2 linked regions of the Homo sapiens genome follow. The protein of the gene in region 2 interacts with the protein of the main gene of each other region in a biochemical or structural test. Each region holds a gene or a part of one and is shown on either strand. Other genes may lie near its edges.

What was found.
Region 1: the proteins of HSD11B1 (region 2) and CD36 form a complex in vitro, tested with the Homo sapiens proteins (one study listed by BioGRID).

What each region holds. Positions count from the first base shown.
Region 1 is NC_000007.14:80,638,769-80,650,601, forward strand, and holds part of CD36 (platelet glycoprotein 4), read left to right. Parts: intron 1-7,319; 5' UTR 7,320-7,413; intron 7,414-7,480; exon of another isoform or gene 7,481-7,591; intron 7,592-7,677; exon of another isoform or gene 7,678-7,883; 5' UTR 7,884-7,972; coding exon 7,973-8,092; intron 8,093-11,833.
Region 2 is NC_000001.11:209,696,924-209,709,415, reverse strand, and holds the start of HSD11B1 (11-beta-hydroxysteroid dehydrogenase 1), read right to left. Parts: upstream 4,571-12,492; 5' UTR 4,474-4,570; coding exon 4,386-4,473; intron 3,606-4,385; coding exon 3,475-3,605; intron 2,708-3,474; coding exon 2,596-2,707; intron 2,474-2,595; coding exon 2,288-2,473; intron 1-2,287. UniProt on the Homo sapiens protein: Controls the reversible conversion of biologically active glucocorticoids such as cortisone to cortisol, and 11-dehydrocorticosterone to corticosterone in the presence of NADP(H).

The sequences.
Region 1 (11,833 bases), on a different chromosome or scaffold from region 2:
AAATAAAAAAGATTAAGGGATTTTTCCCATCACCCAGATGACGGGAGGTGACACTACTGTATAAATACTCCTAAGAAGTTATATAGGAGGACAGGAAAAAAGGTAGTAACTGTTTTCTTAGTCACTAGGCTTTATCTAAAAATCAGGTTTGCATTATTTTCAAGTTATCAACCTTCCTATATTTTATGCTTAAACCATACCCAATGGCATTTCATGTCGTATGTATAAGTTAATATTTAAAGTGATTTATAATCCAATTTGGATTATTATAAAACTTTCATTTTATACTTAGGCTATTTATACATGATGTTTAAATGATGAAGATCATTATACTGCAGACCAATATAATGAGGTTAGATGTTATAAATGACTTACAGCTCTTATGTCAACATGTTGTCTAATATGCAATTATTAACTATTACTTTACAGAGTCATTAGCTTGTTTAATTTTCAATCTGAATTGCACAACTTTTGGTATACCTGACTTGCTCTACATGATCAAATGCAATGTGTATTTTGGATATGTGCTTTTTAAGTTCTTTTCTGTAATGAACAAAGATATTGTCATTGTTACTGGGAATAGCAAAGTATATTACTTTTAAATAATCTGAAATTTAATTAGTGTAAATTAGTAGAATAAAAATAAAGTTAATTTTTTTTCGATTCAGGAAGCTTATTACAAATAGTACTGAATTATTAGATGATGATGCCAAGTTGAAGTAAAGGAGAAATCAATTTGGAGGAATTAAGTAAAAGCCTCAAATTAATTATACATTAACTAAAATTATAAATAACTGTAAATGGCATAAATTCTCTAGAGTACATCCCAGTTTCTGAAATCATCAAGTAGCATATTGAAACCTGTTTTGTAAAGATTTGCATGTACTTTTTAGTCTTTTTCTGTGTGGTTTGAAGTCAGTAATGTGTGTTGAAGCTAAAAAATATTGCTTTAAATATTGGTTCACAAGGAAGCCAAAATGAAATATTTAAAAATGTTTGTTATATAGAAAGTCCAGTGGTCCTTTGGAATTTACAAGAAAATAAGAACTAAAGTAGAAATCATTTAATTTCCCAGACTCATTAGTGAACCAGAACAATAAACCAAACAGAGAACCATCAGATAATGGGTTAGCCTGGGAAGAATATTAATTACAACTGGAGGTACTTGCACAGAGTGTACTGAATTTGGAATTTACCTTGGAAGTTATAGTTGCCACCCTATTTTTTTAAGGAATTTTTTTAACCTTGTTTACTTTAACACATTTGAACCCTGCATGTGTGTGTATTTCCTGTGTGTTTCCTGAAAAGGAAAGTTTAAGATAATTCTGTAACTATCAGATACTTAATTCTGTAAGTATCCTTGCATCTAATCAGAAGATGTTTTTGTTCACTGGCCCAAGATGTGTCTGAAACTTGCAAGTAGCATTGTTCTAAACTAGTAGCTGTCTTTCCATTTGCATATTTTAATTCCATACATATATGATCACATTTCATTATAATCTAACTATTTTGCAAATACTCATTTCTACTTTTGTAAAATATACACATTTATTAGATTTTTAAAACACTTGGCCAATATGAAATAACACTTTACTGTTATGGTTTGAAATGATACTTCATAGTAATATTTCAAAATAACAATAACATTTTCTACAATATAAATATATATTATTTTACTTCATTTAATACTTGCAACCTTATTTGATGTAAGTAAACTCATTTTAGAGAAAACTGTATCACAGACAAACTTCAATACTAACACCCAGAACTGAATCTACATTTCTTGGCTTCAAGGTCCAGCATTTTTGGCATTACAAACTTTATAGTGTCTGTTTATAGTAGAATTTGGGGTGTGGAAAAAAGACATTAGCATTCTTGTCTAAGGTTCAAAAATTAAGAATGGGTCTAGATAATACTCTTTAAGTCAGTATGAACTTAAGGGAATAATTTCAAACCTACAGTAATCCCTGGTTCATAAGTCTTTAAAAGACGGGACTTGTTTCTAGAAGGATCCCAAGTATAATATATAAAGTCCAATGTATTTATTGCATTAGTTTTTAAAGACTACCATCAAAACAAGTTACAAATTGCAATATTTGAGAAGTATGTAATTATTTTATATTACAGATGTCTATCAAGTTTTTTCCTATTTTACATTTTTACCATCATATATTCTGATAGGATAGAAATGGACATGAGATAATTTCAGTAAGATAAGATTCTGGAGATCTCATAGTCCAGTTATTTGAAAATTACTTGTGGAGCCCATGGGTTCTTTGGAGATGACTCAGAGCCCAAGTGAAGCGTGACTGGGAAAGGGAAGAGGCACAGTTTCTGCTCCTTTCTTTTACCAAATAACTCTTCTTTGAACTATCTTTTATATTGGTATTGTGCATAAAATTTACCTTGAAAGGAGAATTCTATCTCTAAACATGATTTTATAAAGAATGACCTAATGACCTTATGTTGATGAAACATAATCATAGTTAAATGATTGTTTTACACCCATTTCTACTACCTTGAATTTGAATCTACATTTTTACTCATGTATAGGGAACTGTGTCTTTATAAACATACATAGTTATGATAATGTGAAAAAAGTAATTTTAAAAACTAACTTCTATACTCATGCAAACCGTTGAATGAATTCCCCCAAGTCCTCCAAAAACTAGATTTTATGGACAGATGCTGTATTTTTTAGGTAAGGAAAACTCTCTGTATCAAGAGAATGGAAAACAAGAGTGTGGTCTGGTTTTCTATCCTAAGAAAAAGTGGGAGGAAGGCTTATAGATAGAAAAAAAAGAAATTTTAGCAATCTACTGATCAGTAAGAAAATGTCATTTAGGTCTGGCAAGTGTCTATGGTACAAGTACCCTGGAAATCTAAAACTTTTCAAATTTCATAGTTTACATCCCAGCAGATGTTACTTCAGGGCCATGCCTTTTCTGGGTGGAGTTTCCAAGGGAACACAGCTTTATAAACACAAGGGATTAATTATAGATGCTCTGGGGACTTGCTCTAATGTTCTAAACTGTTTACTGAAGAGGCTTCTTATATCTCAGTCTAATGCAGGCTTTGCAAAAAGCTTAGTCTCTGTTTCTACTGGGTTCCCAATATAGTGGGAGGGTATTTTGCTTAAAAGTTCATTACAGAAACACTGTTGACCTGATAACCAAAAAAAAAAAAAAGTTATATTTTTCCTCCCTCTTTCAAAGATGACCCAACGGAATAGGGTCCACTCATGAATTCTACAAAAGGAATAGGATTTATAATCTATAAACTGGACAGAAGGCAACTGAGCTGCCTATAGAATCAAGAAAGGCATGTAATTAGTTGCCTATTAAAACACGTCTTCTTATTTTCCCTTTCTTCTTTATACAAGTCTCAATTAGTTTTCTGTATCTTGGCTTTCTAAATTTAAGTATTTTAAGCAGGAAGTAAATTATTACCGATACAGTATCAATATCTTGTCTGTTTCTTATAAAGGACAAGTAACAATTAGTAAAGAATAAAATTTAATCTACAATTAGCAAATGAAATTAATTACCTATTTTCATATATAAGGAGTTGTGTTATTAAGAAAACTGAGTAAGCATAACCCAAATTTTTTTATGCTTTAGACAGCTAAATTTGGTGGAATGGTGGAGACAAACTACATTCTTTCTCTGAAGATAAATATAGGTGGAAAAGCTGTGTGACTACATGTGCTATTTAACATGAACTTTTCTCTTTTGTATTTGGTGCACGTCTTACGTAGTATGGGTGGTTCTCCTTTGCCTCAGGTGAATAAAACTAATTATAATTTTGTCATATGCAGCTTAAGGATAGAGTATGATTATAATAACAATACTTCATTACTCATGGTGTCAAGGCACCGAGTGATAATAAATGAACCCAACTAGTGTCACGTATTTTGCCTATTCTTAGGAAAAAGGTAGAAACTTAAAGTAATAAGAGGCAATCAATCAGTTGAAAATTTGAACAAATAGACAAGTTCAGTTTGTCTAGCTCTTTTTTCAAAATATCAGCACATGGATTGAAGTTTTGTTAGATTAATACTTGTAATTTTGCTTGTATATCATCCTGACCAATGTTAGATTGAGAACTGTCTAACCATAGAATTCAACAGAATAAATTACTTGATACTTCTGTTTTCTAATGTATGTGACTCTACAGCAGTGGGATGTGTACACTATCTCACTTCAGTTTTAAGTTCAAAGCAGACAGAGCTAGGCAGTACCCAGGCCTGTCCATTGCTCAACATATCTAGGCTCAGAGTCCATAGAAGTTATACTAATCAGTTTTCAGGTCTAGAGAGGGAGCCATTGGAGCGCATGCACTACTCCCTGGTTTCTTCAGTGGTTACTGTTGGAACTCTTTACCCCTTGCAGAAACTCTTCTCTGTAGTGCATGGAGCTACTTGATTGAATAAAGAAGAATGATTTGGGAAAAGGCCAGATAGATTCACAACTAGGTTGTGGCATAGAATCTGGAGAAGGGCTAATATATGCACATATACCTATTCTAACAGCAATAGAGTTATAATTTTAAATCATTTTGTATCACATTTGTCAGAGTTGCAAATGACATTAATATTGAATGAGTAATTTTTAGTGAAGTTTATGTGGAACATAAAATAACTTTTCCAGAGAGATAACTTAATCCTTGAGTTATACATGTTTTAAATAGATTTTCATACTATATTAACAAAACTGGAATGTGACACTGGGGGTTTCCTGCTGCATTTTTTATGTGGGCTCATAAAGCTGTGGGTTTCTACAGAGGTTCTCCTAGAGCTTCCTAACAGTGAGGATAAAGAGTGTCAGGCAGGAACAGGAAGACAAAGTTAAGAAACAGAGTCTCTGGGTTTCTTAACTGCTGTGGAATCAGTCATTTTACCTAATGCACTTCCACGTAAGAATTGAAAAACCAGTTCAGCCGCTTAAATTAAAAAATGCTGATCTCATTTTATCATCTCATTTTACGCATGAGGAAATTGAGGTGTAGAGAGATTATGTGGCTTGTCTGCTTTCATTTAGCAAGACAGTGACAAATCAGTCTTTGGTTTAATCTTGTCCCTTCATCTCAATTGAACCAGCTGGGATCGCTATATTTTAATTGCTTCGTTAAGTATAACTTGCAGAAAATATTTGGGGATGGTCTATGAAATGGGCATTCAATAAAATATTATGTACCTAATAAACTACCCTAAATCTCATTATCAGTTCACAACATACAGAACACCAGCATGACATTCTCTAGTTGGCGATTACTGTGGTTGCTTAAAAGATGGTTTCAAGAAAAGTTTCAAGTGCTTTACAATTATGCATTGCAAAGGAAATTCTATTTGACAATATCCAGTCCTGATTACCAGCATTAAATTACTCATTCCATTGCATTAGGACAGCCATGGACAAAGCCATATGAGGTAGCATGGTATACGATTTCCAAGGGCAGGGAAAGCTATTGTTACCACTCCACCCTGAACAATTAATAAAAAGCCAGCCCTACTTGCTCAGTGAGACAGAAAATTCCACAGGAAAAACAAATCACTTGTTTAGACTTATGTGCATTCCCTTTACATTGGAGAAAAATGACACTAAAGAACTAGTCAGTCTTCTTAATCACCAAGACCTTGATGTAAATGAAGTTTATTGCATCCTATGGTTTATACTGGAAAGTATCCTATGTATAAGGGAATAGGCAAAGGGGAATCCCAAAGGTTAAGGGAACATATGTAAATAATAAAATTGCCAAGAAAAATATTTGTAACATTTATTCCTACATTTTGGGGGAAAATATCATTTTCTTATTCTTTTCTTAGCTCTACAGGTAATATTTTTGAAAAACTATATGATTACTAAAGTGGAAGTAAATACTAATAAAATCATAAGAGTGGTACCTCTGTTGCAAGACAGCTGTGGAGGGAAAACCTGAAATTATAACAAACCACAATTATTAATACACTTACAACATTAACAACAATATTCTATGTGCCCTTTTTTGACTGTAGCCTTCATTCCGTTGGCACATATGTTTTCTTTGGCCATGAGCATTTCAAAGTAGAGAATAATTGTTTATAAACTATAAAGCGCATTCTGACTATAAATGACACGCCAACCCCATTATTGACAAAATGTCATTGCAACAACAAAGAAGTTCAAATAAATGTGTTTTCAAATACTAGTTAGAATTAACTCTGATTATTACAGTAGGATCCACTCATTTCACAAACTGTATTCTTTCTTCCAATCTTTTTTTTTTTTTTTGAGATGGAGTTTCACTCTTGTTGCCCAGGCTGGAGTGCAATGGCATGATCTCGGCTCACCGCAACCTCCGCCTCCTGGGTTCAAGCGATTCTCCTGCCTCAGCCTCCGGAGTAGCTGGGATTACAAGCATGTGCCACCAAGCCCGGCTAACTTTGTATGTTTAGTAGAGATGGGGTTTCTCTGTGTTGGTCGGGCTGGTCTCAAACTCCCAACCTCAGGTGATCCACCCGCCTCAGCCTTCCAAAGTGCTAGGATGACAGGTGTGAGCCACCACGCCCGGCTCTCCCAATCTTTATATAATAATCACATACTATGGCTGGGCATGGTGGCTCACGCCTGTCATCCCAGCACTTTGGGAGGCTGAGGTGGGTGGATCACGAGGTCAGGAGTTCGAGACCAGCCTGACCAACATGGTGAAACCCCATCTCTACTGAAAATACAAAAATTAACCAGGCATGGTGGCGTGCACCTGTAATCCCAGCTACACAGGAGGCTGAGTCAGGAGAATTGCTTGAACCCAGGAGGCAGAGGTTGCAGTGAGCCGAGATCGTGCCACTGCACTCCAGCCTGGGTGACAGAGAAAGACTCCGTCTCAAAAAATAATAATAATCACATACTTTATGAAGACACCAAACATTAGATTGACAAATATATACTAACACAAACTACCTAATTTTAACAGAATTAGCATGAATCAACTGCAAATGACAAACTATATTGTAGTTGAATGTGTAGGGAAAAAATTCTTCAGTAAGAGAGCAATGCCATGGTTGAAACAAGACATCCTCTACATTTTATATTTGCTTCAAATTCTTTATACCTGTAGTCTATCCAAAGTCATCAATAAAACTGAAAGTAAGATACTCTTATTTTAAAAATTCCATGTTTTAAACAGTTTTTAGGACAAGCCATTCAGGCCTGAACTCAGTATTCATGAAAATTAGACTTTCTTTTAACAGTTATTTTAAGTATGGTGATATTAGAGAGTGTCCCAGTATAAAATTTCTGAGAATTTTTTTCTATTTACCCATGCTTTTCTTATTTTCACAGATAGCTTTCCAATGATTAGACGAATTGATTCTTTCTGTGACTCATCAGTTCATTTCCTGTAAAATTCATGTCTTGCTGTTGATTTGTGAATAAGGTATCGTAAATAAAACATCTGTTACCATACTTGCTTATCATTTAATGGAAAACACATCAGTCAACCCACATTCTGTTCGCAGGAGAGCTCCAGAAGGGGTGTGGAAGGTTGTGTTGGGTGGAGAAACCAGATAGTGAGGATGCAACTAAGTTGCTGAGACAAGGGAAGAGAGATGAGGGTGAGAGTTCTCCTTAGATAAGATTTCAATATGTTAATCATGTGTAGAAAGAAAATTAAAAAGGAGGAATATGAAGAAATTCAGATATGACATTATTAGTTCTGCCACTGGTAGGCATTAGAAGCAAGAAAAGGGAGACGGACCGAGGAAGCCACTTTGGTGAAACAAAAAGAAAAGCATTTGTTTATTTAGAACGGGCAAAATGATACGTTTCAGTGGGTGTTTTCTTTGTACTTTGATCTTTTTGTACTGATATTTAAGCTTCTGTTTTATGATCTCTTTCTAATGATAGAACCAGAGCTTGTAGAAACCACTTTAATCATATCCAGGAGTTTGCAAGAAACAGGTGCTTAACACTAATTCACCTCCTGAACAAGAAAAATGGGCTGTGACCGGAACTGTGGGCTCATCGCTGGGGCTGTCATTGGTGCTGTCCTGGCTGTGTTTGGAGGTATTCTAATGCCAGTTGGAGACCTGCTTATCCAGAAGACAATTAAAAAGGTACAAGTAGTCCAAAGAATATGCCTTCTCATTTTGATTGATTCTAACTTCTCTTTTTTTGCTTTGTATTTACCTGCTTTATATTTCATGGTAACTGCTAATTTTGTATCTTTGACATAAAGGTAATTATGAACCACTGCAACTCTATATGATGCGACTTTATGTGAAATGTTATAAGTATAATGTATATTTAACATGACTCCATTGCTGTCTTAAATATAAATACCAAATTCTATTAAAAGCTGTCTACAGGTATGCATGTTAGTAGAAATAATTGTTTTAAGTTATGTCCAAAGAGCATGTTGGCATGCTTTTGAGTAGGAAATAAGTGAGTATATTTTGTAAAAGCACATTTATAAAAGAAGTTGCACTTTAGTTAATACTGAGAAAAGTAAAACTGTGTGTGTGTGTGTGTGTGTGTGTAATGTGTTTAATATTGAAACATAAATCCTTATTAAATTGTAGGTAAACTTGTTTGGTAATACACTGTTTAGTAATCCACTATTTTTATATATGTGTAATAATCTCATCTCATAAATATTTTCTATTTGTGAAGCTTCATATTGGAATCTTAGAAAATACTTTCAGAAATATGCAGAACATGTCTTAGTATAAAACAAATTGACTGTAGTGTGAAAAAACAGAATGATTGAATAGATGGGCTTTGCACAACAACCTAGAATTCATCTCCCACCCTAGCTTATTCGAATTAGCTACACACTCACTCATCAGAAACGTTGATTGATAGGGGGAAGAAGAGAATAAAGGGAAGCAGTTCTGCTGAAGTTCTAAATCAGGGATGGCAAATTCAAATGGCTGCAGGAGTTTGGATACAGGGGTTAAACAAAATTTAAGGTGCCAAGAACAAGATAAAATGAAGAACAGGAACTGCTGTGAACTAGACTGTGTGTTTACTGCCTGAAGGCATAAATGTTCATTTTATTAAACATAATACTGGCCAAATAAAACGAGTTCTGCCTTCAACTCTCTACCTGGTTAGGATGGCAATGACCTAGACAAAGGGTTAGTAAGCATAGTGCACGATGGAGAACAGGAGGAATTGAATTTTTATTAAATTTTTATTGCTATATTGTTAGTATTTTTAATATTTTTGATCCACAGTTGGTTGAATCTGCAGATGTGGAACCCATGAATACAGAGGGCTGACTGTATTGTGTTTATTGCTAACATATTGCAGAACTTCAGCCTCATGCATTTAACTGAAAAAACATATGTAAATTAGTATCCCCTGCCTTGGAATTCTTAGTTTTCTTGATAGTATTTTTAATACAGGCCAATGGAAACAGACAGGTAATAGTGAGGTGTGGGGCTTATCTAATAGTGGGATGGAGTGGCCATTGATCTGACATCCTTCCTACTCATAAACTATGTTCTCACCCAGATCTTATGCAGAGAAAGTACAAGATCAGTGTCTGTGTTAACGTACAGACTACAACATCATTTGGAAAAGTTTTCCAAATTCAAAAATCACAATAATCTTCCAATGCACAGCGATTTAGACTACTTTTTTTTGCTGACACATAATTATTGGTCAATAACTGAGTATTGATGATTTAATTTTTTTCTTTGTCATGCAACAAAACTGGTACATGTAGATTCTTTTGAATAGCATGTGAGGTGCTAGCATTTATTTTAATTCTTTAATATTTATCTTTATGCTTATAATAGTTAACCATGAGAAAGTAAGTTTTCTGACATCAAAATGTGCTTTTGTATAATGACTAAGAGAATAATATAATCTCATCTATTGTAAGCTATAACCAGGGGAAGATATATTATAATAAAAAATACCGAGACCTATGAGACTCTAGAATTGAATTGGAAAAGTAAATGCTGTAATACTTTGAAAGAGAAATCTCTCAGAGTATTCAAGAAACTTCAGGAAAAAGGTAGGACTTGATTCAGATTTTAAAGAAGTGTAGAATTTTGAAAGTCTCAAATAACTGCAGTAACCATATTAAAGGACTGATTGATAGTATGAAAAACCCTGTGAAAATGCTACCAAATGCAGTGAAGATGGAAGGAAGAAGGTAGAGAATGTGCCCATAATACTGGATTAACAGCAGAAAAGATTAGAAGTTAACATGGGGTTAGAGTTAGGAAGCAAGCTTAGAACATCAGGCAGAAAAATACTTAATTGATGATACAATACACAATAGTCGTCGGTATGTTTTTCAGCAAGTGTAAGATATGATAAAACCTGAATTTAGAGATTAGATGGCTAACATTTAATTCTTACTAAGAGTTTCCTATATACTAGTTCACTTAATCTTCAAAAATATCTGTGAGAAGTTGCTGTTATTTTACTCATCTTACAGGCGCAAGTCCTTAAATCAACTTGCCAACTCACCTAGCCAATAGGGAAAGAAGTCATTCTCCAAATGTAAGCAATCTGTAGGAAGAGCCTAGATGAAAAACCTGGCCTTGTATACTACTCTACAGCAGAAAGGTTGCAAAGTGAGGATACCAGAGATAGGAAAACAAACAAACAAAAAACTGTAGGATATGACCACTTTCAAGGAGAATATAAGATTCCCTTTTAGAAAGATATTTGCATAATCTGCACATTATATAACAAAAGGCACACTGGTCTGGCATGGTTGAGTATATAGAAAAAAAAAACTGATAGATAATAGGATGAAATGGAAGCTTGGAGAGACAGATTAAATTAGAGGAGTAAAAGCATCAAACTCAAGATGTCCAGTGAGTTATTGATAGAAGGTATGTATATACCTTACAAAGTAAAACAGAGGTTTTATAAGTGATGTTTTATGAACATCAGTCTGTGTTTCAAAGGTCAGAGTTCAAATAGATTTGATCATTGCTATAAAGATTAAAAATAAAACTAAACAGTAGATTTACTTTTAGAGAGTTTTAATGGAGAGAGGAAAAAGCAGAAGAATTATTACAGAATTTGTAATAATTCAGAGGCAGGAAGACAAAAGTAGAAAAGGAAAAGAATGATCTTATATGAAGAAACAAACAAAGAGTACAATCCTAGAAGTTAATAGGAGGCCAGAACTCAAGGAAAGAAAGCATAAAATGTTCTCAGGCAGATGAAAATTAAGAAAATAATGATTAGAACATGGTCACCAATAATTTTGAAAGTATACTTTGAGTAGGGTAATAAAGAAGGGGGAATTAAATCAATGGAGTGCTTTTCCTTCTTGTTTTTGAAATAAGAATTATCCGTGCAATCTTTTACAAGGAAAAGAGAAGATTCAGACTTCCTAGTGTAGATTCAAACTCAAGGAGGTGGTACAACAGAGACTCATAAAAACTGTCAAATGACAGTGCACATTGTAAGCCCCCTACATGTCCATAGACTAAGACTCATCATCAGAATCCTTATATTGGTCAAGATGTATGGTACATTTAAGGCTAAGCTTCTTTTTGCTCTCAGATTCCTACACAACCATGTTGACCTTGTTAATTTAGTCATATGAAGTAGGTGGAATATTGTTTGAATAGACTGTTTCTTTTTTCTTCAGTTTACAGACTATTTTTTAAATGATATTGGCGTATGTATATCTTTGGCATAGAGTAGGAGTCAAATATTTGAATTTTGTGTAAACCTAGAGAGCCAAGTGTCTTACTGCTGCCTCAGAAATACTTAGAGTAATGCTATTTCACAAACATATGGGTTTTGGTACTGTTGACTTCTTATTTGTGTACCATTAAAACTCATTTAATATTACTTTGTTTAGCTGACTAATAGCA
Region 2 (12,492 bases):
ATACAAGAAACTTGCTCAATAGGTGCCAAGAAAAGGTGGTGAATAGTGGATAGATGTGGACTACAAGGAGGTTCCCAGAAGCAGCAGTATTGTCTCTGTTAATGCTACAGAGGTAACCAAGCCTTTAAGGAACATATTAGAAGTATAGTATTCCCATGTAATGCAATACCCAGAAATGCATTGTGGAGAAAAAACAATTCTTTATCACTGAAACTCAATAAACAACTTAAGGTATTCCCTAGAAGAAATGATTAAAACTCCATCCCAGTACTGTTTGGCTGACCTTAAGATCAACTTGATGTTTAGCATCCCATATTTATAGAGTTTAGATTTTAAAGAGGAAGGATTAATGAACATGTTTACTGACTGATTAAAAGAATACATCATAAAGCAGAGAATATTCTTCAGTTGCGGCAAGACAGCAATGTGTCTGTACTTTGCAAGTTCATAGACAGGTTTCAAGGCAAAAAAGCTGGAATCTTTTGGCTACACAAGCAATAAACACCAAAGATACTCATCCAGCTAGATTTCCTACCTCCCAGAGTTCATGGAAATTACCAAGTGTCATTCAATAAGTGTAGGAGATATGGGGAAACAGAGATTATCAGAATTTCATCACGTCCTTGGGCTCAACAGTAATTCTTAGTCCTTCTGAGCACATTTAGATCATGGGTACATTCTAGAAAGTTACATTCGTCAAAGGTGAAATACATCCTTTGCCTAGAGTGAATGTATTATTTAATCAGCTGAAATCATTAAAGCCACCTACATCATGACTGATGTGAGGATTTTGTCCAATGCCCTGGGATGGATTGGGGATGTGCCCAGCACCCTCCCACTCAGTATGCATCTGGAAGCTCTCCCTTTCTTCCAGCCCAGAGAGAGTCTGTGTCTGGGGAGGGGTGGGGAGTGTGTGTTGTCTGGGAAGCACCGGGATGCATATCAATCACACTGTTTGGCGGGTAGCACAGACACACTGCCCCTTTATCCAATCACTATGCAGGCCGTCCCTGGGCCAGAAAGGAGAACTCTTTACGATACAGATGGTGCTATTAGTTTCAATAAGAATGTTTGTGAAGTGCTTAACAGTTTACAGAGTCCTCTAGGTTATTTGTTTTTATTTTGCCAGGAACAACATTTAGATGGCGGATTTTGATCCTGGTGTTTGCACTTTCCAGCCACATCCTTCTAACTGACTAATCAACAAAGATGTGTGGAACTTGTCTCCTGGATCTATGATAAAAATGGGCCTAGAAATGTCCCAAGCTGGGAACTCACTGGTTTTTTACTGGTGATGGCTTCTGATGCTACCACCATCCAGAACACCAGGGACCTCTCTTGATCCCACAGATATCTTTTCATGACCATTTCTCTGGACACATTTCCTCCCTACCCAGCTGGTTGTTTAAATTGATCTTTTCATGTTAACATGTTCAAATTTTAGAGAATACACCCACTATAGGCAGGTCTGTTCATCTTTTTTTTTTTTCTTGTTGTTCATTTTATTTAGCTTTAGCTTAGCCCACTTATCAGACACCTGTGTGTTGTTAAAACAGTTAACTTCTCAGTTGTACCTTCACATTTACATAACTTCACCAACCTTTTGGTCATGGAGGAAGCAAAGTCCTTTTTATCCATTGTGACTAGGTCTCTCACTTAGGACCAGGACAAGCTGTACCTCCAGCAGCCTCTCAAGTCCCTTCAACCTTCCTTTGTAGAAAACAATTCAGGCTTCCAATAGGCACTCTGAACTACTGCTTTTTCTCTGCTACTTAAAAGAATTTTGTAGCCCATCTACCTTGACCAATCCTTCATTTTTTATGGTGTCACTAGTTTGTAACAGTGTCTCCTTTACTCAGGATGCGTGCCTCTCATTGAGTCCACAAATCACCCCCCTACAAGTCTCTTATCAGTACATCTGCCCATTCATGCATATGAGTAAGCTGTTAATCAGCTTTTGTTTAATATTACTATGAACATTTCAACTTCAAGTTAATATTGTAACTAGGTCTCTCCCTTAGGACCAGGACAGGCTGTACCTCCAGCAGCCCCTCAAGTCCCTTTGACCTTACTTTGTAGAAAACAATTCAGTCTTCCAATGAGCACTCAGAGCTACTGCTTTTTCTCTGTTACTTAAAAGAATTTTGTAGCCCACTTACCTTGACCAATCCCTCATTACTTCTCTGCATGGAAACTGATAAAAATTTATGTCTACTTCAGAGCCTGGCATCATCCCTGGCATTTTTTTTTTTCTTCTACCTTCCACATATGTCCCTGTCCCACTTACCAGCCAGAGAGGAGACGACAACAATGCTTCCATTGCTCTGCTTCAGCATGGGCAAGGCAGCTACAGTCAGGACCACGTAACTGAGGAAGTTGACTTCCATGCTTTTGCGCACATGGTGAATATCATCATGAAAAAGATTCAAAGAAGTGTTGGTGATGTGGTTGAGAATGAGCATGTCTAGTCCTCCTGCAAGAGATGGCTATATTAAGAAATCATCTGGGGTTGATACCTTTCCCATTCTCCTCCCAAAAGCTCTTGGTGACCCCAAGGGCAAAGTTCAGAGGAGGAGGTAAGAGAAACAGCCTCACCCATGAGCTTTCCTGCTTGGGCAACAAATTGCTCTGCGAAGGTCATGTCTTCCATGGTGCCAGCAATGTAGTGTGCTGAGGCTGCTCCAAGCTCCAGGCAGTGGGATACCACCTGCAGTGATACAGCAGAAATGGCATCAGTCTTAGCTGCAGATTTTTGGGGGGTAGTCTCTGAAGTAACGGGGGGCTTAAATGAGAGATTGCTCACAGCCCTGTTTAGGTAAGAAATGGTAAGTATGTTTGTGTGTGTGTTGCCTAATATAACCCTCATGATCATCGTCCTCTGTCTGAAATATTTTCTGGAACTTGGTGGGGTTCAAATGGATAAATCATCCCAGTGCTGGGGTTTAAGTTCATGATTTATGCTCATGGCTTCTGTGAATAGGCATTTCTGAGGGCATTATGAGTGTAGATGCTGGTTACTATGTGGGTAGCTCTAGGTTTGTGAATGTTTGTACATCCTTGGGTTTGTGAGTCCATGAGAGGGCATGTGTCTGGGAGTCTGCATGGGTATGAGGATATGTATTCATAAGCAGGTACTGGGATTTCAGTTTTTGAAAACATCCGTATGTATCTGTAGTTCCATGTGTAAATGTGTGTGACTAGGCATGTCTGTGAGCATATATAACTCAAGGACTCTGTTGCAGAATATATTACACACACACACATGAATGAATGCTTAAATGCATACTTTTATATTCCTGTGGGTTTTTTGGTGTTTGAATCTATATATGAGAGTGCAAAATTAAGTGTCTGTGTGTGTGCATGTGCCTCTGTATATAGATCTGCGATATGCTAGCTTCTGTGTATATGTGAGCATATATAAGAACACATCTGAGCATGTGACGGTACACATATCTGCGAGCATAGAACCCTCACCTTCTGTAGAGTTTCTTTTGACCTCGCTGTCACCACCACATGGGCTCCCATCTTCGCCAGATGATAAGCCATCTCTCTTCCGATCCCTTTGCTGGCCCCTGTGACAATCACTTTCTTTCCTTGGAGCATCTCTGGGGAACCCCAAAAGGAAGTGAGGACCATACCCAAGTTGGCAGCAAAATTCCTTCTCCCTCTCTGGATATAGGCATGCTTATCGCAATTTGTAACTTAAAGGTTATGAGCCCAGATCAGTTTGTCACAAACTCCGTAAATCACTGTGGGAACAGGCCAGGTCTTTCATAAACATGCTCTGAAGTGGGAGGTTTGGGCTGACAGCCTCCCTACTGTCATTTCTAAAAACCTCCATGGAAAGAGATCATAGGATGAAGCCAGAAAAGTCATGGTTCAGCTAAAATGCTGGAGTTCCAGACATTTCTGGACTCTTTCAATTTTGCTCAATTGAAAGTACATTTAACAAGGAATCAAAACACATGTGTTCATAGAAATTCCAGGGATTTTCCCTCACTTCTATGTAGTCATCATCTCCAGTTTTTTTTTTTTTTTTTTTTGCCTCCCACTTATCAGTCTCTTCATAGAGCCCAATTAGCTGCTGAGTTGTGAATTTGGGTATTACTCTCATTTTTGTAGAAGATTTGAAACTGCTTTCCATTAAGGGTGCCAAATAAAGCATGGCCTATTTGGCTAGATTTTGGCTACACGATTACCCTTCCTACACAGTCCCCCCTGTCCACAGCCTGTAGCTGGAGGACACAAAAATACCATCTTAACTCAGGGTTCCCTCATTTTCACCAACTTTGAGGATCAAGAACACATCTTGGTCCTCAGGAACACTCAAGCACCCCTGTGTTTTTTAAACCTATTCCTCCAAAATGAGACGCATGGGTACTTACCTGGTCTGAATTCCTCGTTTGCAGAATAGTAGTAGTAGGCCATGAAGAGCCCCAGAATGGGGAGGAGATATTTTTTCATAAAAGCCATCCGACAGGGAGCTGGCCTGAAGACTCCTGTAGGACACACAGAGAGAACCTACAGAGCTTTCTACAACCTCCTAAGCAGGCAGCAGCCTCTGAATTGTGACATCAGGGACGGGGGAGGCTGGAGTAGTCTCAGGCAGTGCTAGCCAATTTCCCTGTCAGAGCAGCGATTGGCTTTGGGTGGGATCCCATTCGTCCCTGGCAGCCTGTGTGGTGGATTTCATAATGGACAATGTTTACTCCATTTCATTGAGCAAGAGGAGACTTCCAGATGGCCAAGCTCATGACTGTACAGGACTGGATTCCTGAGCATCCCTACCCGAGTCCATCTTACTCTTAACACCATTTACGCCAGGGATCAATGATCTTTCAAAAGTAATTTGTCAAAGACAGAGAGAGAGGAGTGCATGTAGGGCTTCTGGGGGGAAATGTGAGTAATAGCAAAGAGAGCCAAACTCAAGCCAAATCTCACTCTCAGTCCCCCTACCCCCCCACCCAGTGGGAAGCAATTAAAAATAACAGCACAAAACAGCAAAATAAGCTTAAGAAAAAAAATGTGCACATTTTGGGAAAAAATAATGAAAGCAAAGAAGCTCTATAAGCCCCACACTCAAGTTCAATGAAAAAGTATTACAACATCAAAGGAGAAATTGCAAGCCAGCCAGAACCCAGATGGCGGGAAATCCAAGACTGGTTCAAGACTCTAAGGCAAGTGCAATGGATCATACACTTATTATTTTAACAGAGAACAAAGAAGAAATAATGAGTGACAAAAAAGGCACTAAACTATTAAACTGGGTCTTGTAAATGCTGTAGAGCAACAAGAAACATGGAGAAGATGCTAGGAAGAGGCGACCTGATGTAGAAGAAAAAAGAACTAGCATTAGGCAAGTGAAACTAGCTGGGGACGCCCACACCAGCTAAAAATAGATCTAGTAACAGTAAAAGGACGAGGGTGGTAAGAAACCCTTAGCAATTTAGAATTTATTATCAGGGAAATATAAAAATAACCACCTCAGTATGTCCGTAGCACGAATTCATTAAGGAATAATCCTCAAAGAAAGAATTTAAGATGTATCATTGTTAAGTTTTTCAACTCAAAACCAACCAATCAACTCATGGAAATTACCCCATCACAATGCAGTCCTGCATTCTGTAAGTTATCAGTAGAGCGGGGAAAAAATTTAAATGTGATAATAAGTATCAGTGCTTTGGAGGAGGGATAGGAGTTGGGAGTAGTGGGGGGACAGAATTTACACAAGGTTAAGGGAAATTAAGTTATGATTCCAAGTGCAGTATCTGGAAACATTCATCAAATTTTCACTTTAGAGTAAGAGAAAATAATTTAAGACCCAGAGGAGATGAAACAATTTGTCAACAAAGGCCCACAGCTGTGAGGGTCACTTGTAGAAAACAATGGAGATTTGAGAACAGTTGAGGGCTAGACAGAGCTCGAGGTCTATGAAGGACAAAAAGAGAAAAAAGATAAAATTCAAGTAAAAATTAGATTACATGCCTTTAGAACTGCAAGCTACATTTGTATAATTTTATAAATATATTTATGATACCAGGATATATTACAGACTACACTCCATTTTCATCCCTAGAGGGAAGGCAGTGCCAGCCAGAACCCAGATAAGGTTTATTTTCTTAATCCTATACTATTAATAGTAAAATTATAGGAAACAATGAAAAGTTATTTGGAAATATGATGATGTTGAAATGATAGAAAGATGGGCAGACTAGGGATGTTTATTGTCTGACATAAAAAATAAATAAAGAATTTTAAAGTCCATTAAGAAAACATAAATTTAAAGAAAGCAAAAATAACAATGAGTAAGATAAACTGCAGAGTAATAGAACACAAAGCAAATGCATTAACAATTGCTGATTGTTGGCTCCATTAAAAAATGAAGTCCAACATTGTGTGGCCTCAAAAGACACATTTAAACCCAAAGACACAAACAGATTAATAATTAGATGACCTAATAGCTACGATGCTAGAAAATAAGGATATGGCAAAAGCATCCAATAAAGTGAGTTTCATGGGATTAGATAAAATAATTGCTATATAAAATGCATTGATGAGAAACAAGGACACTGTGTAATGGTAGTTGATGCATTAAATCTTACCAGTTCTCAAATTTTTGGTCTCAGGACCCTTGTATACTCTTAATAATTTCCAAGGACCTCAAAGAACTTTTGCCTGTGTAGGTTTTACCTATTGATATTGCTATTGCAATTTATGCATTAGAAATTAAGACTGAGGATTTTTTTCTAAAGCTCAAGAATACATAAGCATACATTCCATTAGCATTCAGGGCAGTGGCATTAGCATACATCCTGTAGCCTCTGGAAAAGTCAGGTAATGTCTTAGTATAATTATGAAAATAGTTTTGACCTTTCAACCCTTCAAGAGGGTCTCAGAGACCCATGGGGACCACACTTTGACCATATTATATAATAAACATCTAATCCACTTTGTGTCCATATTTACATGGCTGGTTCTCTCATTAGCTTGTAAACTCCTGGAGGACATAGATTATGTCTTTTTCATCTTTGTCTCTTTCCATTTCCCACTAGCCTTGCTCCAAAATAGGCATTCAATAAACTTGCTGTTTTAGTGTTTTTGAGATACTGCAGCAATGAGAAAATTGCTGTCTTCCTGGAGCCTGGTTTAATCTGGGGAAATCACTGGGATTCAGCATTCTGGTCAGAACAGATCAATCCCATCCCCCAAATCTTCTTTCTGGGGTTGTCAACAAAGTTTTAAAAAATAATAAAGACAAAATGAAATACAACTGTTTCAGCTAGCATTTGTTTCAAGTCAAGTATTCCCTGATTGAATTAAAGTTCCATAGAAAAACAGTGAACAGTTCACTCCACTCCTTGCACCCTCCTTTGTAATACACTGACCATTCCCATTCCAGAGCAGGCTTTCAGCAGATACCTGGAGCCTACCTGCACAGAATGGGCTTTTCACTGCTGGAGGTGAGTATTAGAGCCCAGCCAGGAATTCTCTCTGATTTGATCATTCTCACCAGAATAAATGGAATCAAGCACAAGCAACAGAGTGAGAAGAACATAGGGGCTGAATGAACAAGAATGGGACTGTGAAGGATGGGCCAGATCTGGGGAGACTGATAGGAGATGGCAAAAATGTGAGGAGGGGCAGCCAGAGGGGAAGTTCCTTGCATTTGGCATAAAACGTTGATCATGAAAGAAACACCTGTCATTTAGAAGGTGGCAGCTGTAGTGCTTTTCATGACTATTTAGTAGATTTGTTAAGCAAGTGCTCCCATTTGAAAATGAAATCTTGTTGGGCAAACCTCAGAGTAAAAAGTAGGTAAACACTGTGTTCAGAGGTTCTGCCTTTCCTGGGAGAATAACACTGCAACGTTGAAACAGGAGAGGATCTTTGCATTACATGAGAATTGATAGGGTCTGGCTGTGTCCCCACCCAAATCTCAACTTGAATTATATCTCCCACAATTTCCACATGTTGTGAGAGGGACCCAGGGGGAGGTAATTGAATCATGGAGGCTGGTCTTTCCTGTGCTATTCTCTTGATAGTGAATAAGTCTCACGAGATCTGATGGGTTTATCAGGGGTTTCCACTTTTGCTTCTTCCTCATTTTTCTCTTGCTACTGCCATGTAAGAAGTGCCTTTCACCTCCCGCCATGATTCTGAGGCCTCCCCAGCCATGTGGAACTGTAAGTCCAATTAAACCTCTCTTTGATCCTGGTTTCGGGTATGTCTTTATCAGCAGTGTTAAAATGAACTAATACGGTAAATTGGTACGAGTAGAGTGGGCTGTTGCTGAAAAGATACCTGAAAATGTGGAAGTGACTTTGGAACTGGGTAACAGGCAGAGGTTGGAACAGTTTGGAGGGCTCAGAAGAAGACAGGAAAATGTGGGAAAGTTTAGAACCTCCTAGAGGCTTGTTGAATAGCTTTGACAAAAATGCTGATAGTGATATGAACAATAAGGTCCAGACTGAGGTAATCTCAGATAGAGATGAGGAACTTGTTGGGAACTGGAGCAGAGGTAACTGTTGTTATGTGTTAGCAAAGAGACTGTTGGCATTTGCCCCTGCCCTAGAGATTTGTGGAACTTTGAACTTGAGAGAGGTTTTTTAGGGTATCTGGCAGAAGAAATTTCTAAGCAGCAAAGCATTCAAGAGGTGACTTGGGTTCTGTTAAAAGCATTCCATGTTAAAAGGGAAAACTAGCATAAAAGTTCAGAAAATTTGCAGCCTGATGATGTAAAAAAGAAAAACACATTTTTTGAGGAGAAATTCAAGCCAGCTGCTGAAATTTGCATACGTAGCAAGGAGCCAAATGTTAATCCCCAAAACCATGAGGAAAATGTCTCCAGGCCATGTCAGAGACCTTCATGGCAGCCCCTCCCATCACAGGCCTGGAGCCTAGGAGGAAAAAGTGGTTTCATGGGTGGGCCCAGGGTCCCTGTGCTATGCGCAGGCTAGGGACTTGGTGCCCTGTGTCCCAGCTGAAAGGAGCCTGAAAGGAGCTAGCCTAGAGCTCAGGCTTTAGCTTCAGAGGGTGGAAGCCCCAAGCCTTGGAAGCTTCCGCGTGGTGTTGAGCCTTCCACATGGTGCACAGAAATCAAGAATTGAAGTTTGGGAACCTCTGCCTAGATTTCAGAAGATGTATGGAAATGCCTGGATGCCCAAGCAAAAGTTTTCTGCAGGGCAGGGCCCTCATGGAGAACCTCTGCTAGGGCAGTGTGGAAGGGAAATGTCGGGTTGGAGACCCAACACAGAGTCCCTACTGGGGCACTGCCTAGTGGAGCTGTGAGAGGAAGGCCAATGTCCTCCAGACCCCAGAATGGTAGATCCACTGGCAGTTTGTGCCATCTGCTTGGAAAGCCGCAGACACTCAATACCAGCCCATGAAAGCAGCCAGGATGGAGGCTGTACCCTGCAAAGCCACAGGGGCAGATCTGCCCAAGACCATGGGAACCCACCTTTTGCATCAGTGTAACCTGGATTCAAAGGAGATCATTTTGGAGCTTTAAAGTTTGACTGCCCCTTTGGATTTTAGACTTGCATGGGCCCTGTAACCCCTTTGTTTTGGCCAATTTCTCCCATTTGGAATGGCTGTATTTACCCAATACCTGTACCCCTATTGTATCTAAGAAGTAACTAGCTTGCTTTTGATTTTACAGGCTGATAGGCGGAAGGGACTTGCCTTGTCTCCGATGAGACTTTTAGACTGTGGACTTTTGGGTTAATGCTGAAATGAGTTAAAACTTTGGGGGACTGTTGGGAAGGCATGATTGGTTTTGAAATGTGAGGACATGAGATTTGGAGGGGCCAGGGGTGGAATGATATGGTTTGACTGTGTCCTTACCCAAATCTCAGCTTGAATTGTGTCTCCCAGAATTCCCACGTGTTGGGGGAGGTACCTGGGGGAGGTAATTGAATCATGGGGGCCAGTCTTTCCCCTGCTACTCTCTTGATCTGATGGGTTTATCAGGGGTTTCTGCTTTTGCTTCTTTCTCATTTTACTCTTACTGCTGCCATGTAAGAAGTGCCTTGTGGCTACCACCATGATTCTGAGGCCTCCCCAGCCAAGTGGAACTGTAATCCAGCTAAACCTCTTTTGTTCCCAGTTTCAGGTATGTCTTTATCAGCAGTGTGAAAATGAACTAATACAATAACGCATAAGATTCTCCCTTTCTTGCCACCCCCACCCCCATTCTCACCCCAGTTCCTCAGAACTCACAGCTGCCAAGATCTTTTCCTGTCTATAGAAAGAACTATCATTTCATGCAATTTTGTCCAGTAACAGACTCCCTCCTCCTTCCCTTCCTCCTGTTCTCCTCCCTCATGTGTGTGTCTAACGAGGGGAGAAGTTCTCATTTGTCAATCCTTCATGTCAATCTCAATGGACAGATTTATTCTATTTTTTAGCTAACGGAATCGTGGATCTGGGAGAATGAAGTAGGCATGGGATAAATTGCCCTCTGTGTGCTTTCCTGTTACTGCCTGGCACGTGTAGCTTGTGGTAGGGGACTGAGAGGGTAGAATACCTGGAATCTATTTGCCTGGGAGAGCCAAGGGCCTTCTAGGAAAGAAGAGACCCTCACGAGGTCACGAGCATGGTCTGATCCCTGCCCCCAGTGGAGATGGAGATGCAAAGAGTTCTTTTTATAATCAAAAAAATTCTGTTGTTTTTATGTTTTAAGGGCATGATCTAAGTAGACAGTTCTAAGCATGTTGTAGTTGTAGTTTTTCAGGTTTTCTCTCTTGCCTAGCTCCTGTGGATTCACATCTGAGCATAGAAGAGAGAGGGGGCCATGTAAGAACTAAACAAAGTTATTCAATGGAAGGTCTGTTGAAACATTGGCAGCATGGGGAGCAGTGGGAGAGCCCCACACAGCTGAGAGGACTGACCTCAGCATGACCACCACAGGGCTTTGGCCCATCTTGTGTTTTTTCTTGGTTGGCCAGCCCAACTTTCAGGAAGCACGCTAGGGTGACACCACAGCCCCAGCCAGGTGGGCATCTCAAGGTTCCAGGGATGTCAGCATTAGAAGGAAGTCACTTGCCCCTGGTGGGACATAGGGTTGCCAGATTTAGCAAATAGAAATACAGAATGCCCAGTTAAATCTGAATTTCAGATAAATGACAAATACAGTTAAATCTGAATTTCAGATAAATGACAAATAGTTATTTTAAGGATGCCTGTCTGTCTGTCCTTCCTATCTATCTATCTATCTATCTATCTATCTATCTATCTATCTATCTATCTAATCTATCTATCTTATCTACCTATCCTCTATCTAAGCTGTCTACCTATCAAGATGGGATAAACTGTTGAAAGAAATATTCCTAAACTATTGAAGGAAAGATGTCTTGAAAGGAACATACTTACACTAAAACATGATTCAAGCCAGGTTTGGTGGCTCTTGGCTGTAATCCCAGCCACTGGGGAGGCCAAAGAGAGGATCACTTGTGGCTAGGAGTTTGAGATCAGCTTGGGAAACATAGCAAGACCCTCATCTCAAAAAAAAAAAAAAAAAAAAAAAAAAAAAAGGAAAAAACAAAACCATTAATCATTCATTGTTTATCTGAAATTTGGATTTAACTGGGTGAACTGTGTTTAATTTGAAAAGCTTAGAAGTGGCAGTGGGCTTTAAGAACCTGAGAAATGGTCTCAGGTGTGGACAAAACATTCTGGACCATGCCTACTGATAGCCATCTGGTCTACCTTTACCAAAGTGGAGCCCAGCATCCTGGCCACAAACAGCCCAAAAAGGCAAAAGAGGTACATACCACATGGTAGCTGGGTGGAGGAATCATCTACTAACATTTATTTAGTTAGGTATTTACTGTTGGTCAGGTACTATGAATAAAAACACCATTGAAATGCTCTCCATGCCCTAGAAGAAGAAGACGTGGAAATAAATGAAATGTGTAAGACATTACCAGTGCGCTAATGGAAGTCTACAGTAGGGGCATAATGAAGGGAGTAGCCCATTCTACATGTGGGACGGGCCAGCAGGAGCTGCTTCCAGGAAGTTGTTCATTTTGATCCATGTTGAAATATGAGCAGGAATGTTCCAGGAAATGAAGAATGATAACAGTGAGCATTGAGTTGGGTTCAGGAGTGTGTGGGGAGAGGGGAGGGCTAGTTTGTAGAACATTCTTTGCACAGGAAGCTGTGTGGGAAAATAGAAAGAGGTGTGAAAGAGAAAGTCATGTTTGGGAAACTATGAACAGTTCCATGTGGCTGGATAACTGAATTTTACAAGGTGGGGTTACACAGTAAGAAGCCTGGAGAGGCAAGCAGAGGCACATCTTTGAGGGCCATGAATGCCCACTGTTGGAGTCTGTAGTTCTGGCCATTTGTTCTCAAGTCATGAAGGCTTTGCCCTCTGTGGCTTCTTCATCCCCATCCCAGAACTCTATCCCCTGGCTCTTTGTATCCCCTCATTGCCTTATGCAAAAAATTCTGAATCTTCTGCACTCTTTCAGCTCTTCAATCCAGCTTCAC